Linked DNA regions of Homo sapiens. The protein of the gene in region 1 purifies or fractionates together with the protein of each later gene. This does not show direct contact. Each region holds a gene or a part of one and is shown on either strand. Other genes may lie near its edges.

The links.
Region 2: the proteins of CCDC127 (region 1) and TGFBRAP1 purify together in Homo sapiens (co-immunoprecipitation; one large-scale study listed by IntAct). This does not show direct contact.
Region 3: the proteins of CCDC127 (region 1) and ATF2 purify together in Homo sapiens (co-immunoprecipitation; one large-scale study listed by IntAct). This does not show direct contact.
Region 4: the proteins of CCDC127 (region 1) and CETN3 purify together in Homo sapiens (co-immunoprecipitation; 2 studies listed by BioGRID and IntAct, with this or other methods). This does not show direct contact.

Annotation. Positions count from the first base shown.
Region 1 is NC_000005.10:196,329-198,795, reverse strand, and holds the end of CCDC127 (coiled-coil domain-containing protein 127), read left to right. Parts: 3' UTR 1-1,928; downstream 1,929-2,467.
Region 2 is NC_000002.12:105,270,674-105,274,247, forward strand, and holds part of TGFBRAP1 (transforming growth factor-beta receptor-associated protein 1), read right to left. Parts: intron 3,018-3,574; coding exon 2,871-3,017; intron 2,342-2,870; coding exon 2,182-2,341; intron 1-2,181. UniProt on the Homo sapiens protein: Plays a role in the TGF-beta/activin signaling pathway. It associates with inactive heteromeric TGF-beta and activin receptor complexes, mainly through the type II receptor, and is released upon activation of signaling.
Region 3 is NC_000002.12:175,161,651-175,165,224, forward strand, and holds part of ATF2 (cyclic AMP-dependent transcription factor ATF-2), read right to left. Parts: intron 1-3,574. UniProt on the Homo sapiens protein: Transcriptional activator which regulates the transcription of various genes, including those involved in anti-apoptosis, cell growth, and DNA damage response.
Region 4 is NC_000005.10:90,392,756-90,396,329, forward strand, and holds part of CETN3 (centrin-3), read right to left. Parts: intron 1,353-3,574; coding exon 1,309-1,352; 3' UTR 1-1,308. UniProt on the Homo sapiens protein: Plays a fundamental role in microtubule-organizing center structure and function. As a component of the TREX-2 complex, involved in the export of mRNAs to the cytoplasm through the nuclear pores.

The DNA.
Region 1 (2,467 bases):
CGGATGTGTGGCCACAGACGCCATGCGACCCAGGACTGGAGTCACAAGATTGGGCGAGGACAAAGACCCAGCGAATGGTGAACGGCCATGCAGGATGGGGCCGATCAGTTCAGTAGGAGCAAGTGCGAGACCTGCACAGGACGGGCGAGGGAGGCGTTGGTCCCCAGCCTCTGCTGGCCTTATCAGAATGGGCTGTTCTTGGGAAGCCCCTGGGTGTCTGTGGAGCTGGAGATGTTGGGAGCTTGTGCCCTCAGCACCGCCCACTGACACCAGTGGGCTCCTGTGTGCCCTGCCCAATCCCAGGCCTCAGGACACCCAGCACCCTGGGCCCTTCTCCACTGCCACAGGCCTTAAGGTTGGTCATCATGCCGCCCAGCGGCTGAGTCTTACAATAAAAATTCAGACACAAAGCAGTGGCAGCCACTCTGTGCTTTAGAGTTAGAAGTAAGTCATTAAAAATGTTGGCCCAGCACCTTCCCTGCCTGTTTCCAAAAGCTGGCCGCAATATCAAATTCATGTCCCTGGACAAGGCTCCAGTAAGGCACTGCCTGCAGTGTGCAGAGAGCACTTAGGTGGTTGCAGAGCAGGCAGAGACGAATGTGGGGAGTGGAAGTCACCATATCTGCCCACTCGGCAGGAGGCCGTCCATTCCTGAGACGCCCCCGGGAGGCAGGCTCCTGTACGGCACTCATGCTGGGTACCCAACCCCTACAACCCAGGCAAACCCCTACCCTGGGCAGAGAAGGGCCTGGACACACCAGGGGCAGAAGGAGAAAGGGGATGGAGACAAACCTGGGTGGGGGTGACCTGGGGGCAGCTGGGGTGGGGTGACACGGGGACCATTGGGGTGGGGACACACTCCGGGAGGGGGAGACACGGGGCAGCAGGGGTGGGGGCACACCTGGAGTGGGGTGACATGGGGGCCCCTGGGGTGGGGACACACTCGGGGAGGGGGTGACACAGGGACCACTGGGGTGGGGACACACTCCGGGAGGGGGTGATACGGGGCAGCGGTGTAGGGAAAAGAGAGATCAGACTGTCACTGTGTCTATGTAGAAAGGGAAGACATGAGACTCCGTTTTGAAAAAGACCTGTACTTTAAATAATTGCTTTGCTGAGATGATGTTAATGTGTAGCTTTGCCCCAGCCACTTTGCCCCAACCTGGAGCTCACAAAAACATGTGTTGTATGAAATCAAGGTTTAAGGGATCTAGGGCTGTGCAGGACGTGCCTTGTTAACAAAATGTTTACAAGCAGTATGCTTGGTAAAAGTCATCGCTATTCTCTAGTCTCAATAAACCAGAGGCACAATGCACTGCGGAAAGCCGCAGGGACCTCTGCCCTTGAAAGCCGGGTATTGTCCACGGTTTCTCCCCATGTGATAGTCTGAAATATGGCCTCGTGGAATGAGAAAGACCTGACCGTCCCCCAGCCCGACACCCGTAAAGGGTCTGTGCTGACATGGGTTAGTAAAAGACGAAAGCCTCTTGCAGTTGAGAGAGAGAAGTCCACTGTCTCCTGCTCGCCGCTGGGAACTGAATGTCGCGGTGTAAAACCCGATTGTACATTTGTTCAACTCTGAGACAGGAGAAAAGCCGCCTTGTGGCGGGAGGCGAGACATGTTTGCGGCAATGCTGCCTTGTTATTCTTTACTCTGCTGAGATGTTTGGGTGGAGAGAAACATAAATCTGGCCTACGTGCACGTCCAGGCATAGTACCTTCCCTTGAACTTAATTACGACATAGATTCTTTTGCTCACACGTTTTTGCTGACCTCCTCCTTATTATCACCCTGCTCTCCTACTACATTCCTTTTTGCTGAAATAATGAAAATAATAATAAAAACTGAGGGAACTCAGAGGCCGGTGCCAGTGCAGGTCCTTGGTATGCTGAGCGCCGGTCCCCTGGGCCCACTGTTGTTTCTCTATACTTTGTGTCTTACTTCTTTTCTCAGTCTCTCGTCCCACCCAACTAGAAATACCCACAGGTGTGGAGGGGCAGGCCACCCCTTCACAGCGGGGGTGGGGACACACCTGGAGTGGGGTGACATGGGGGCCCCTGGGGTGGGGACACACCTGGAGTGGGGTGACATGGGGGCCCCTGGGGTGGGGACACACTCGGGGGGGGGTGACACAGGGGCCATTGGGGTGAGGACACACTCCGGGAGGGGGTGACACAGGGCAGCAGGGGTGGGGGCACACCTGGGGAGGGGGTGACACGGGGCCCCCTGGGGTGGGGACACACTCGGGGTGACATGGGGGCCCCCGGGTTGGGGACACACTCGGGGAGGGGGTGACACCTGAGGAGGGGATGACATGGGGCCCCTGGGGTGGGGACACACCCGTGGTGGGCGCTGTCATGAGGTGTGACTTTTGAGCGGAGCCATGGACACACAGTGACTCAGATCCCTGGTTTTGGGTCTGAGAACGACTTAACCACACCAAGCACTGACCTGTCTGAACTGCACT
Region 2 (3,574 bases), on another chromosome or scaffold:
AGGGCTGGCCCTGCAAGGTACATCCCTTATAGCACTAGACACAGAAGCCACAATACGCAACGCCTTCATCCTCACAGTGGAAGGCCAACAAATAATTACTAAGTGGCTGCCATAGTTAAGACCCTGGGTGAGGTACAAAGACAGTTAAGAAAAGATCACTGTGGTGATTTACACTTCCACATCTATCATCTCATTTATATTTGACTCCCACAGCCACCCCGAGTGGATAGGTTGGGCTGGAATCGTTTTTACAACTTCCCTAGACTGACATTTCCCCAAGTCATCTAACTAAGAAGGGATACAAAATCAGTGTTTGGATTTCCAGTGCTCCTCCCACAGTGCTGCGGGGGATACCCCCATTGCCTGAAAGCTCCCCTGTGCTACCTGCAAGCCCAGGCTTATACCTAATGACTGCTCATATAGGGCCTCTTCCGGGAGGCTGCCTCTGACCCCTCCACCCCAAGGCACAGCTCGTGGGTTCCTCGGCCCTTCTAGAACTGTACCTGCCCTTAACTGCATTCCAATTAAACTCTGAGTCTCTGAGGACCAGGACCAAGTCTCATCCATCTTTGTATCCTCAATGCACAGTGACACACTCTACATACTCAGAAAAGCTGGCGGAATGCAAACATTGAACCACACACTTGTGGCTGGCCTGAGAGTTTTATAAGGAGATTTGTAAAGCAAAAAGAATAAGTCAGGAGTGAGTAAAAATTCAATAGCTGGGACACCCTGGCACTGATCAGTCAGGGACGGTGGCTGTGAGTGAACAGAGATTGCACAGCGGATCGCCACAGAAAGTCCTAATGTAGGTGCAGGTACAAGCCAGAACTAGTGTTTGCTGGTTTCATGAAATACCAACCCACACCTGTGTTCTGGCTCTACTGCTCGTGGGCTGTGTGACCTGTGGCAAGCGGGGTAACCTCTCTGGGCTTCAGTGCACTCTTCTGTAAAAATGGAGGAAAAACAGGCCTCACTTCACAGGGTTGTTGTGGAAACTGTGTCATAAGGCAGCCTCAGCGTTTCAACCTATGCTGGGCATATCTAGTCAATCCTCATTATTTGTGGATTCTGTATTTACAAAGTCATCTACTCGCTGAAATTTATTTGTAACCTCCCAATCAACACTCGCAGCAGCTTCAAGGTCATTTACGACAAGCACAGAGCCTGATGCAGAGCTGAGGCCAAAGAAGGAGCGCCCTCCTTCCTTGCTTCAGCTGTCGTACTAGCTACACGTTTCCTTTTCACGGGCTATTTATTGCCATGCTTTTTTGCATTTTGGTGCTTCTTGTTGGTGATTTCAGTGTAGTGCTGAAGTGCTGCCTAGCGCTCCTAAGCTCTGGAAGGTTGTGATGTGCTTTATGGAGACAACACGTGTGTTAGATATGCTTTGTTATTGGTCAAAAAATGGTATTAAAGGCCATTAAAGAAAAACACATCACTAACCCCAGTGAGTATAAATGCAGAAATTCTTAATGTGGCAAGAAACTAGTTAATTCTACCAGTTGCAAGCACCATGCTGCGCTGTGGAACTTTACACAATACAGAAACTGTGGCCTCTGTACCCCTGAGGAACAGAAACCCAAATGCCCTCCAAGACACCTGCATAACCTTCTTGCTTAGAGCTCGAGGGACCTGAGCCTTGAGCAGCTCGGGAATGGGTCGCTGGGGGCAGTGCCTACTGCAAAGCCTTGATCAGAGACTGAAGCCGTCAGAGGGAACTATGACTCAGTGCTTTGACATTGAATAAAGACACTGTGTGTCAAGAGACACACAGACGTCTAAAGTCTACCAGGGCAGCACCAACATCATCAATCAAAGGGCACCGTCCATCTAGAGGCACGGTCCATCTCTAGAGGCACGAGAAGCCTTATTTCTCCCTGCAAGGAGGCTGACTCTGTCAAAAGAGGCTCAAGGGCTGAGTGTGGTGGCTCACGCCTATAATCCCAGCACCTTAGGAGGCAGAAGCAGGAAGATCACTTGAGGCCATGAGTTTGAGACCAGCCTGGGTGACAAAGCGACACCCTGTCTTCATTTAAAAAAATCTTTTTAAAAAAAGAGGCTCAAAGAATCACCCTGTGCAATCAACCAGCAGCTGTGCCAAAGCCCTTCTCTCTGCTTCCTCCCACCCGCTTGATATGAGTTTTTTCCAAAGGGAGACAATACTGAGATCATCCTCACCGAGAAGAAAGTGGACTCGGTATAAATCAGATTTCTGGAGCAGCCGCCGCAGCTTGGCCTGCGTCTCGGTGGCCTCTGCACCCTTGCCACTGGCGGAGGCCCTCTGCAGCAGCACCTCTTCCAGGTACAGCACAGCTAAGTGGGTGTGATACTCTTCTTTCTGCAGGAAACAGGGGGAGCCAAGCAGACAGACAGTGTTTTCAAGTGGGAAAGTCAAAGCTCTCCCCTGTCAGCCAGGGCTTGGAGACCGCGGCTGCACTGACATGAGCTGGGCAGATGCTCACTTGCTGGATCGAAACCCTCTCAGAAACCATGATACTGAGATGAGTTTACCATCTATGGGGAATAGAACAAAATGTCACCTCTTATTTCAAGAAGTAAGGGCCACAGAATTTAGATAACCTACAAAAAGGTATAGCTCCCTTTATTTCCTTTAAGGATAATAACAAAGAAGGAAAAGAGAGGAAAAATAAAAGCTGAGTGGGTGTGAGACGGACGGAGAAAAAAATAAAGCTACCTATTGCTCCAGGTCTCTTTCCGCAAGCCTCAAGGCCGCCATCAGACCATCAACAAGTACGGATGGATCACCCAGGGAACAGACATTACACAGAATCACATGCCAAAAAGTGTTCTAGTTCAATTCCGTCTCTCCAGCCCACACTCTTTAGTCTAACTTCTGCAGTGCTCACCTGCAGTCTCTTGTCTATCACAAGATGTTCCAGATACTTCACAAGGGCTTTAGGGTATTTTTTAAGGCAATTGATAATGTCGTCTGGATTAAAACTGTTCTTCTGCTGTTCATCCAAAGGTCTCTTGGTGAAAACCTGAACTCCGACCTGAAAGAGGAGCGACAATACAGTGACTGTGCTTCCCAAACCCACCTTTCCTTTAACTTTATTTTGGTCATTGCACATTCAAGCTTTGGATAAAATCATCACTTAAAATATGATTAAATTATTATGTATGCACAGCTTTTTGTATGTCAATCATATCTCAATACAGTGGCTTAAAAAATATAATTATGGAGAAAAACAGCCCAGCATGAAGCACTGTCAAAGGCCAGAGGGCAAAAAATCAAGATAGAAAAGCCAGCCTATACCCTGAAGTCCTCCTCACACACCCCATGCAAATTGGAAACTGAAGAACAAAGCATTTACTGGTGACAGATTTTGACAACCTATAATAATAACATTAAGATCATCCAAGAACAGGGATAGCCAGTTGCAGAACAGTATGTGAAAAGATATCAAAAGTGCTGAAATTTCTGTACAGTAAACTCACTTCTCTGAACATGGATTATCTACTCTGGGTTATTTATGATAGATGGTTAATCTGAGATCTGAGCTTCCAGTCCCTGAGTAAGTTTCCGGGCTGCCTTCCTGTGTCCATCAAG
Region 3 (3,574 bases), on another chromosome or scaffold:
TTTATTCCAAGTGTTTCCTACATGGAAATGAATTTGTCATTATAAATCTTAATAAATCATAATGACACATTCATAAGACAGAACTATGAAATGTATAGTTCAGAAAGTAACTCTTTTTTTTTTTTTTTGAGACACCGTCTCGCTCTGTTGCCCAGGATAGAGTGCACTGGCGTGATCTTGGCTCACTGCAACCTCTGCCTCCCAGGTTCGAGCAATTCTCCTGCCTCAGTCTCCCGAGTAGCTGAGATTACAGGCACCCGCCATCATGCCCAGCTAATTTTTGTATTTTTAGTAGAGATGGTGTTTTCTCACATTGGCCAGGCTGGTCTCGAACTCCTGACCTCAGGTGATCCACCTGCCTAGGCCTCCCAAAATGGTGGGATTACAGGCATGAGCCACCATGCCCAGCCCAGAAATTAACTCTTAAACTAGCATTAAAATACTCAGTGTACAAACCACATAAAACTGCATGAAATCTAAGAATTATTGTTACCAGTCTGTCAAAAGTTTTGGTAAACTTTAAAAGAAACAAAGACAGTAAAATGTCAGAAAATATGAAATACACAATATTTGTCACATCACATAGATCACTGGTAGATAAATAACTATAGTATGATATGGCCAACTAAATAATTTTAAAACTGCTAAATAATACAACTTATTCCCAGAAATAATTCCCAATTAGGTAATCACGCTTCATTAATCATAACTCCCAAGTTCACAAAAGTATGGCAAAGCTAACGCATTCATGCTCTGCTGACAGTGTAAACTCGCTCAAGTCTTTGGGGAGGCAAAAATCTGGCAACTGTAGAAACATTTATATCCTTTGACTAGTAATTCATTTGAGATTAGTATCCTATAGAAACAATTCATAAAAGAAAAAATGCACAGAGATGTTCAATTCAATGTCAAAATAGGCATAAACTGAAAACTATTATTTTCCTGTCAGGCATTTAGAACAAATTTAATACTTATTTTTCAACTATCAAGTAACAATCAAATATCATAAAGGTTATACAACATGGAAAAATACAATGCTATAAAAGTAAAATAAAACTTATTTGATATAATTCTGTAAAAACTGCAATATATATGCACAAACTAGAAGAAAACAAAAATAATGAACACAATTATTTGTTAGTATGGCAAAACAAGTTGATATATAAAAAAATTGTTCCGACACGTTTAATAAATAAAAGCAGGCTGGGTGCAGTGGCTCATGCCTGTAATCCCAGCACTTTGGGAGGCCGAGGTGGGCGGATCACAAGGTCAGAAGATCGAGACCATCCTAGCTAACACGGTGAAACCCCGTCTCTACTAAAAATATTAAAAAATTTGCCGGGCGTGGTGGTGGGTGCCTGTAGTCCCAGCTACTTGGGAGGCTGAGGCAGGAGAATGGCATGAACCTGGGAGGCGGAGCTTGCAGTGAGCCAAGATCGTGCCACTGCACTCCAGCCTGGGCAACAGAGCGAGACTCTGTCTCAAAAAATAAATAAATAAATAAATAAATAAATAAATAAATAAATAAATAAATGCAAGCAAACATACTAGCCCGAACAGTAAAATTAGAAAAACCAAAGCTATAACATTGGAGCAAAGCTAAAAAAATTAGAATGACAAAGGTTTCGGTTCTGCTAGCAAACTAAAGAATATTTAGGGAATATATTTATAAACTTATGGTCAATATTATAGATAAAAATACTATATATTACAAAAATAACCAAAGTCCATATGGTATTTTGCCAATTACAATTATTTCTCCCTGTCTTTCCCTACCAGTCTTGTTGAGAATCTCTGTGGTAATAAGCCACTACTACTGTTGGAAGTATTTTGTATTCCTTGGGTAGAAAGGCAAAAAAGTGGCTGAGAACCACTATCTTTGTTAAGATACAGAATGCAAATATGGGTGAATAGGCAAAGCCCCCAAAACATTGTTTACATCTCTTCTTTACTGTCAATGTCAAAATGCCAAGGAAAAAAAATCAATAAACATACTTAAAAAATGAAAAATGATGCTGGGTGGTGGCTCATGCCTGTAATTCCAACACTTTGGGAGGCCGAGGCAGGTTCGAGACCAGCCTGGCCAACATGGTGAAACCCCGTTTCTATTAAAAATACAAAAATTAGCCAGGTGTGGTGGCGGGCACCTGTAATCCCAGCTACTCAGGAGGCTGAGGCAGGAGAATCACTTGAACCTGGGAGGCAGAGGTTACAATGAGCTGAGAGCGGCACTGCACTCCAGCCTGGGTGACATAGCAACTCCGTCTCAAAAAAAAAAAAAAGAAAAGTGAAAATGAATACACTAGTTTCAAGGTTGCCAACAAGAATAAATTGAAAAGATATATATAATGAATACATATTTATTTATAATTATATAATATGTAACATTAAATACACCTGTAACACAATGTGTAAAAATAGGCCCGGGTGCAGTGGCTCATGCCTGTAATGCCTTAAAAGTGAAAATGAATACACCAGTTTCAAGGTTGTCAAAAAGTCTCAACAAATTGAAAAGACACATATAATGAATACATATTTATTTATATTTATATAATATGTAACATTAAATATATTTATATTATAAAATAATGTGTAAAAATAGGCCTAGTGTAGTGGCTCACGCCTGTAATCCCAACACTTTGAGAGGCCAAGGCGAGTGGATCACTCGAGGCCAGGAAGTCGAGATCAGCCTGGCCAACATGGTGAAACCCCATCTCTACTAAAAATACAAAAATCAGCAGGGAATGGTGGTGCACCCCTGTAATCCTAGTTATTCGGGAGGCTCAGACAGGAGAACCGCTTGAATCCGGGAGGTGGAGATTGCAGTGAGCCAAGACTGCACCACTGCACTCCAGCGTGGAAGCCAGAGGGAGACTCTGTCTCAAAAATAAAATAAGATAAAATACAATTACTGATGGCCTTAAAGATCCACAAATTTCCTTGATTTTCTATGAAACTATCTTATACCTTACTATATAACCTTTTAACCTTGAGAAACATAACAAAGGAAATAAAATGTTCTCTGGGGTTTTCCTTCAAATAGAAATAGGTGAATACTATCCTACTACTTCAACATTAAAACTTACATAAAGAGAACATGCAGCATTTTAGACAAGTTCTTAGCCTTGAGGAACAGGTGTGAGTATGAGATAAACACAGAAATACTAAATTAAACTCCAGATTATAACAATACTAAGTGAATTTTTTGGTTTTTGTTTTGTTTTGAGATGCAGTCTCATTCTGTTGCCCAGGCTAGAGTGCAGTGGCACGATCGGCTCTCACTGCAGCCTCCTGCTCCTAGGTGCTAGCGATTCTCCTGCCTCAGCCTCCCCAGTAGCTGGGATTGCAGGCGCCTACCAACGTGGTTTCACCATGTTGGCCAGGCTGGTCTTGAACTCCTGACCTCAGCTGATCCGCCTGCCTCAGCCTCCCAAAGTGCTGGGATTACAGGCGTGAGCTACCACACCTGGCTAAGGTGGGATTTTTTTTAGGGTACATTTTAATTATACAAAATAACCCAACAGGTGCTATATGCATTGACTTTTATAAAAATCAGTTGAATATTAATTATTGC
Region 4 (3,574 bases), about 90 Mb from region 1:
AGTCTTGGGTATTTCTTCGTAGCAATACAAGAATGACTTAATATACACTTGCTTCCTAGATAACTGTTTGAAATGTCACTACTGCTATAGTATTCCCTACTGATTTTGTGTTAAATTTCTAGTGGACAACCCTTAATGTAATACTCTTAAAAGGCTCACAACATTTAAAGCGCCTCAAATGATACTACACTTTAAACTTAAAAATTTAAAACAAGAATTCTAAAGAAAGATTGCTGAAATAGACAACTCAATTCCGTTCCTGGGAGAGCCCATAACACCGAGTACTAGATATGAGTGAAGGATCCATATAGGTACTATTTTTTTCTATGATCGATCTCCATAACCACTTGTTTCCCCCTAACATACACTTCTACAAGGCAGAAGAGCCCACCAGTACTTGGAAACTGTGTCTCTACTATTTCCTGGTGAATCACAGACTGTTCCTTCATATAGGTAAAACATAGACTTAAATTATTTCTGTGGCTTACAGTTTTCTATTTTCATCACTGTGACATGTAATTGAGTGATAATTACCTTAACAAATCAAAATTCCAAAATTTAAATCTCTCAGTCAAGAAGTTAGAAAATTCAAATTGTATTCATTCAATTTGTTTAAGGAAATATTCAGAAGAAAATTAACTTTCATACTTACAATGATACCAAGTTAAGAAACATAATACACAAGGATAAATGGGTCTATCTGCACAATACTTATTCCTTCTAAACTCAAAGACAGGACTCTTAAAAAAGGAATTAGGCTTATATTGAGTCAGCTTGTATTAAAATATAGAATGTCAAAATTGATGAAATGTTAGGTAATGGAAAAATGTGCCACTCTATTGCTAATTGTATTTCAATTTTTGTTTCAGAAACTAGTAAAATTATAAAGGGAAGATTTAAGAAATCCACTCTTGAGGGTTAACAGATACTAGGAATAAAAACAAATTTACCAAACTTTAAAATTCTAATAAAATAAATATTTTATTAACGAAAGTCTGGAAAATGTGTGCACTAAAAAGTGACTATAAATGTTAAATTAAAAAACCTTCAAAGAACACATATCACACATTCAATTTTTAAAACTTTATATAAAAGCTCTATTATAAATACAAAGCTAAACTATCTGAGTACTAACAACACAGTTCATACAAAGAAACTTAACAGTAGTAAAATACAGATATATAAGATGCTTATTTTTGGTCCTTTAGGATAAAAGAACTAAGTTGGTTTTTTTCACATGGCTCCAGGCACAAAAATAGAATATAAGATGGTAACTGCAACATTCTTAGTGTTTATCCTTGTAATTCTTTAAATGTCACCAGTCATAATAGCAATGAACTCCTCTTGGTTTACTGTGGTAAGAAAGAAAATGAAATAGTCAGAAATATAAACATTTTATTTTTTCAGAATCCACGACTACCATTTTACACTAAGTATTTAAAAAATTTTACATTATGCAAAATTATTACATTAAGACATGGCTTTTTGCTTTTACTTCTTTGTTAGGAAGTGGAACATGTTTATTAAATGTAACTTCTTGGATGCAAAAATACATATAATGTGATAAACATTACAAATTAGTATTCTATAATATTAACTGGGGAAAAGATAATGTTACCAAAAAAGTCAATCACAGTCATATTTGTACATACTTGCTAAAACATTTTAAATGCTTGACATTTCAAGGTTCTTTAAACAACCCTCTTTATAATCTTTATTCTACTAGTTCATTTAGCAAATCCTTCCTTTACAAGTAAGCTTGAACATATCATGCATGTAAATTAGATTTCTAAAGAATGAAAATATAATAAAATTATAAAAAGAAGTTAAATTATTATTTTTTGAACTTTTATATACTTAAAAGCCTATGTTAAAGAATAATTAAAACCAGGTCACCATACCTCAAAGGTATCAATAAAAATGGCAATTTGAAAAGATTACAGATGTAATCTTAATCACCAAAGTAATCCAGTAACTATATAGATGTAAAGGCAGAAAATAATCATGGATAAGGACTAATTTTTAGTTTGCCAAAATTATAAATATAGTAAGAATCTCCAATTTATAAAACATAATGTTTAAGACAGCAACCTAGAAATAAGAAATCAGATAATCTTATAGAATATAATTTTGAAAACCCGACATATGCGCACGTATCAATTAAGAAAAATGTTCAGAAGATACTTCTGGTAAGTATTTAGCATTTAGCCCTAAGACTTAATACATACCTAAACAATGCATAAATTATGAATGATAATTTTGATAATGCCAAAAGAAAACTACACTGAGACTTAAGACCTGGTCTCTAGTCACAGCTCTGCACAGAACAGCTCTGCATCTCATTTCCTTCATCTGAAAACACTGAACTATGAGATGATGTTTTAGATTGTTTAACTCTTATTTACCATAGAAGGTATTATATGAAAATACTCCATTGAATCAAACATTTTTAAGTGGCTAGTGAATGCCAACACCACAATAAGTGTTGCGTAATATATCAAAACAGACACCAGGCTTCCTATTCTGGAATACATTAAAACCGAAATGAGAAAGATATTATATGATATTATAAAATTATTGTTAACTTTCTTAAGTGTAACATTGGTATCATAGCTTTATGAAAGATATATCCTTGTTCTTAGTAGATGGATATGCTAAAATATTAAAGGATCAAGTTTTTGTTTTATTATTAAAATTTAATTAATTAATTAATTAATTTAGAGACCGGGTTATGAGACTGGCTAATCGTTGTATTTTTGGTAGAGATTAGGTTTCACCATGTTGCCAAGGCTGGTCTTGAACTCCTGGGCTCAAGCAATCCACCTGCCTCAGCCTCCCAAAGTGCTGGGATTACAGGCATGGGCCATGGTGCCTGGCCTAAAGACTGAGTTCTTGATATATGAAATTTATTTTCAAATGATTGAGAAAAAAATATACACACGACAGGTAAAGCAAATGCGGTAAAATACTAATTACTAAATCTAGGCAGAAGGTACAATGGTGTTCATTGTACTAGTCTGACAATTTTTCTGTTTGAGAATATTCATAATGAACAGTTAGAAAAAATTAACCAATTAAAAAATGTTGAGGAGATAAAACATGGTCATAGGGAATGAAAAGAATATATACTGCACTGGTTCTAGAAACCACATAGAAAACCGGTTTTGATAACTATGTTAGTCAGTTTTTATACTTGAAACAGAACAAATGTTTTATAACACAAAATACTATTTATTATTAAAACAAAGACCAAATCAGTGTTGAAAAAAAATCCTTCACAATGGTAAAAATTATTACTAATAAGAAAAATTTAGGTAAAGGTAAATCATTACTTGGGCTCTAAAATAAAAATACAGAATTTGGAAAGGAAGTAGAAAGAGAGCTGGGGTGGGAGAATACCATCAGAAATACAGTCAAAGAAAGAATAGTGTATGCCTCACAGAAATAAGCTATGAGTTAGGAAAAATGCACCCTCCAGAAGCTGACAGGGAACTATGAAGCCATGCAATCAGTATTTAACATCTACAAAACACTATGACAAACATGGTAAGAACGTAATACAAAATCTGTAATA